Regions from separate parts of the Homo sapiens genome. Here region 2 is linked to region 1. Evidence: fine-mapped expression QTL. Tissue or cell type: whole blood. Region 1 holds a variant in brackets; the other region holds the start of a gene. All regions are shown on one strand. Distances are between the middles of the regions.

What was found. PIP is the estimated chance that this variant, and not a neighbour inherited with it, causes the effect.
Region 2: SLC39A10 starts here. The variant in region 1 is fine-mapped to the expression of SLC39A10 in whole blood (TOPMed, PIP 0.92).

The regions. Positions count from the first base shown.
Region 1 is chr2:195,609,627-195,612,315 of GRCh38, forward strand. No RefSeq gene overlaps it. Among named protein-coding and RNA genes, the nearest start is that of LINC01827, 36 kb to the left of the region's middle. The variant A/G (reference allele first, on the strand shown) is at 1,286.
Region 2 is chr2:195,655,823-195,658,511 of GRCh38, forward strand. It overlaps SLC39A10 (solute carrier family 39 member 10), which reads left to right and starts at 1,404. Exons shown (of 10, transcript NM_020342.3): 1 at 1,404-1,459. RefSeq lists silencers at 1,673-1,722, 1,753-1,872, 2,073-2,172.

The sequences.
Region 1 (2,689 bases):
TTTCTTGAGAATTCCACTTTGTTGAACCTGTTGGCATTTTGGTGGCGGCTTTCTAACTTGGACTTTTTTCCCTCTATTGTGAATTTTTCTTTAATTTCATTATTGAAATTTTAAATTGTGGAACAACCTAGATACAGGAAAGTGTGCAAATCATATTATACCTCAATGAATGTTTATGCATTGATATACCTGTATACTTCACTCAACTCAAGATCTAGCACATTTTTAGCCCACAGAAGGCTCCTGGGGCCCTTTCCCAACCAATAACTCCTCCCTGGTAAACTCTGCTATTACCTTCATGTGAATGGAACCATAAACTATGTACTTTCATGTGTCAGTAATTTGTTATTTTGTTTCATAGTATTCCATGGCATGAATGTACCACAACATATCCTTCCCTGTTGATGAATCTTTTTATTGATGAATATTGCTATTACACGTGAAGATGCCTTGAACATCTCCACTGTGGATTCTTAATTTTTTCATGCCACTCCCTGTAGAAATTGTGATAAATAAAATTCTGCAGAGGGTTTACATGTTCCCAGCTAATCTTGCTCCACGTTGGTTTGGTTACTTTGGCACCAGAATTTAAAGGAAGATGAAAAATCTCTGTGCATGCCCCTGTAGTCCCAGCTACTCGGGAGGCTGAGGCAGGAGAATCGCTTGAACCCAGGAGGCGGAGGTTGCAGTGAGCTGAGATTGCGCCACTGCACTCCAGCCTGGGAGACAGAGCAAGACTGTGTCTCAAAACAAACAAGCAAACAAACTAACTCACTCCTCTGTAGCCCCAGATTTTAGAAAAGAGAGAGAAAGAGAGGGAAGGAGAAAAGGAGGGAGGGAGGATGGGAAAATGTGTAGGCATGTTAGTATAAAATTTTAAATTAATAATTCCCATTTTATGGAGATATCTGATCATCTTAATTTGCAATGGCTAAATAAGTAATGCTTACATGATTATAGACTTCTTTTCCTCACTTTTGGAAACACTTTATGCCCTCTGGAAATTCTTTTAAAAAACTTTGTTGTATCCCTTTAAAAAGTGATAAAATCATAGTGTCTAGTGCAAATTTTAGGGCAAAGTTCAGTAGGTAATTTGGTTGACTTTAAGTATTTTTCTGAAAGGCTTTTTTTGTTGTTGCTTTGTTTGTTGTTTAACTTGATGAAGACTCCAAACTGTTGAATGAATCTCAGGGAGGCTGAGAAACACAGTAAAATGTATCTTTAAGTATTCACTATGGTTTGTGCACTATGACAAGCCATCTCCATTGCTGACTCTTATGTTTTG[A/G]TTCCTTATTTCATTTCCTTAAATGTCTCTGCTTTTGTTGTTACTTTATTTTGCTTCCTCAAATGCAGAGTAATTAGACATTCAAGTTTTTTGTTGAGCCCTAGAATCTATTACATTAATAAATTAACTAGTTACCTAGACATTATCCCTTTTCTTTTTTTTTCTTTGTTTCTTTTTCTAATTTTTTTGTAGAGGTGGGGTCTCAGGCCAGGCGCCATGGCTCATGCCTGTAATCCAAGCACTTTGGGAGGCCAAGGTGGGTGGATTGCCTGAGCTCTGGAGTTCAAGACCAGCCTGGACAACATGGTGAAACCCCCTCTCTACTAAAATACGAAAAATTAGCTGGAAGTGGTGGTGCACGCCGGTAGTGCCAGCTACCTGGGAGGCTGAGGCATGAGAATTGTTTGAACTCAGGCGGCGGAGGTTGCAGTGAGCCAAGATCGTGCCACTGCACTCCAGCCTGGGTGACAGAGCAAGACTCTGTCTTAAAAAAAAAAAAAAAAAGAGATGGGGTCTCACTGTGTTTCTCTGGCTGATCTTGAACACCTGGGCTCAAGCAATCTTCCTGCCTCGGCCTCCCAAAGTGCTGGGATTACAGGCATGAGCCACTGCCTAACCAACACTGTCCCTTTTCAATTTTTGTATATAGATCATCTAGGAAACTAGTTAAAATAATCTGTACATAGCAAGTTATTTGCCCAGTAGTTTATTTTTTTATTACAGAGATCTTAATTTCTTTCATTAAGATTAAGGATAGTCTTTTAAACTGTGTGTTCATTTTGGGAATGTCAGCTTATTTTTAATTGTGTTGTTTGTTTACTTATAGTAAAAATGCATATTCTTTATCACATCATTGTTCAATGTTTGATATCATAGTACAGTCATTTCCAATAAAGTTTATGCCAAATGAAGTTTGAGAAGCCTTATGATAAATCAAATTATTTCAAGCCACAGAACCTGTTAAAAGTAGCCACTTGGTAGTGCAAAATAAATTGAAAGTGATATGAAAATAGTGACAAATGGCTGTGCAAACATGGCAAGCCAAGTTCTGGACATTAGCCCTTCAACCAAAAAAAAGGTTAATCTAAGGAAAAAATACAAATGACTTTTCAATTTCTAGTTTTTAACATTCATATTAGAAGATTAAAATATAGTTCGAGTTTGTCTATGACTTTCCCTCTAGCATTTAGGGCTGGTAGAGTGGAGCTTCTAAGATGAGTGTTTTGCCCCATCACCCACGTGCTGGAAGCAGTTTTATTTCAAGATGGAATAGAAACTCTACAGGCCAAAGTTGAGAGGAAAAAGATAAATATTTGTGTTGATGAGTGGTGACCATAGAAATACTTCTATATAAGTATATGGCCGGGTGAGGTGGCTCATGCCTGTAATCCCAGCACTTTGGGA
Region 2 (2,689 bases), 46 kb after region 1:
GGCATTTATCAAGCACCATTTTCGTTGTTTTGGATGTTTTTTGTAGAGATACAAAACAAAAAATAACCTTCTTTCATGAAGGTATAATATGCAGGTTAGCGGGACTACCTAGCCGTCCATACTGAATGGGTTTGGAAATCCCAACTCTTTTCTCTACCTGCTCTGTGATACCAGGCAAGTTAAAGTCTTGTGTGCCTCAGTTTCCTACCTCACCGTGTTATGGTGATTAAATTAATATATATGTGGAGTACTTGACACACAGTCAAGCCTGCGATTACTGCTGTTCATGGTTTTATTTTCTCTACTAGACACCAGTAAGGCACCCCCAGAACTCGCTGTGTTAAGTAGATTCTGGTTGGATATAGAAACACAGGCACCCCAGGCGGAATGCAGATACGCCTCAACATGTGGATTAAGTAAGAGCCAGGAAGCAGAGTAATGAAGCAAAAATAAGACGTCCAGAGTCACCTTTTAAGAAAATGTGGGTTGGTGGTTGCTTAAGAGGGGAGGAGACAATTTAGATGGGATGTATGGCGTGAGCAAAGGGCAAGAATGAGCACGGTGTAGGCACAAGTCCATGGAACTGCTTGGCTGGATCGGGATTTTTTTGTCATAGAGTGTTAAGAAATAGTCGATCAGTTGAGGAGTAGAGGAGTGAAGACCTTGGAAAGTTGCCAAAAGCCTCGAGAATTTCTCTACATGTGTGACATGTTCTCAGGACTCAACTTTTTCTTTTAGGTTTGGAAGACCCGCAGTAAGTGTGCTTTAGAATTAAATGGGTGGGAAGGGGAGCTAGGCAAAACACCTCGCACTTAGCACTAAATAAAGTTCGCTGTTGCCCTAAGAGACTGAAAAGGTTACTTTAACAAAGGGGGCGGGGTTAACTTAACGTAGATGTTTAACTCGTATACAGATGAACATTCCAGTTGATCACTCTGAAGCTTTTTGGCTAAAGCGTTTGGGTTTAGAGCTTCCATTACTCATTCGCCTTGCCCAAGGCCTCAGCAACCGACGTTCGAAAGCCAGGAGAAAAGGCGAATGATAAAGGGCGCTCCACGCATGCGTTAAGAAGCCGCCCCAACTCCCCCGCGGCGTTCTTTCTTGGAACAAAACTAGCGCGGAGCCACGGAACTCCGCAGTTTGCGTAGACTTGAATTTCCTATTCCTCGGACGATCCATGTGGAATCCGTGAGTAGTGCGACTCCTTTACGCAACTGGCGTTATCCGAAGTGAATAGCTAGGTGGCGCGTGTACGCCCATAGCGTAGCACCCATAGGCGGACGGGGTGCGGCTGCGCAGGGAGCTGAGTGGACCTTGTACGCCGCAAGCGTAGCAGGGTGTCAGACGCGCCGGTTTCTGCGACGCAGTTAGCGCAGTCTGCTTTGGTGAATACACGATTTGGTGCAGCCGGGGTTTGGTACCGAGCGGAGAGGAGATGCACACGGCACTCGAGTGTGAGGTAACTATAAAACCCCGATTTGTTTACATTCCCTCCCCCAGAACCGGCCCCGTGCGCGGCGGAGACTGCGAGTCCCGGGACGGCGTGGGGGTAGAAAGGGAGAACAGAACCGGGGAGTCGGGGCTGGTTCCCTCGGGGATGCGGGCGCTGGGGTTCCCGCAGCTGCTGCAGTCGGCGGCGGCCAGCCGAAGCAGAGCGCGTGGTGGGCAGAGTGTTGGGCGCCGCGGCTCCTCGTGTGCGGTCTGGGCTGCTGCGGGCCGCGGGATCGGGAGCCGGCGGCATCCACTTCGCGTGCGGAGCCTCGCGCCCCCCTCACCTTCCTGTGGAGGTTGGCGGAGCCTCGCGGGCCGCGCCCGGGGTGGGGGAGTGACCGCTGGGCGGGTGGCGGCGGTTAGGGGGCTGCGCGCCGGCCGCGGATGGCGTCGCAGGCGCGGGCGGGCGAGGCTTTGGGGATCTGTAGGCAGGTCTTCGGGGGCTTGGCGACCAGCGCCCCGGTTTTTTCTTCTCCAGTCCTTCTCTCTGGTCTGTAATGGGGCGAGGGGACCCCGGGATGGAGCCTCGGCACCGCTGTTCCGGACCGAGGCTAACGGACGGCGGCGCCTCTGCTCCTACTAGTTTTCTCCCGGACCAACCGAAAAGCCGAGGCGGAGCGCGGGGGTGTGAAGATCTCGGCCTGCTGGGGGTCCCTGGAGCTGAGGGTGAGGGTGGGGCCGGGTCGGTGGGACAGGCCGGGTGGGCCGGAGGTGGCGCGGCCGCACGGCTTTGTTCCGGAAAGCCCTTAGGTGGAGAGCGATGTGGGGCGCGGCAGGGGGATCGCGTAGAGGAACCTTCGCGCACCGCCTCTCCGGGTCTGGGAATCTGCTGAACTCCTTGCCTCTCCTGGGGTCCCTCGAACGCCCCAGCTAAGAAGGGCGGGGGCCTTGCCAGGGCGCGAGCAACATGACGTTCAAGGTCTTCCTGTGGCTTCTGTAAAGAAATGTTCACGTGGGAGCCTGTCCACATGGGCTGTACTAAGGATCTGGCACGAGGAAGAAATATCACTGCAGAACCTGAAGCCCTCCGTTGGAAGGGTCGTTCACTCGAGTACCTATTCTAAGTAACAGTGACACAAAACACATGTTAGAAAAAAACAAAAAGTATGGTAGGTTATACTGTTTTTTAAAAGAAACTTTTATTTATGCCTTTTGCTGTTAAGTCCTCTAATTTTACATTGGAACTGAGTCATTCTTG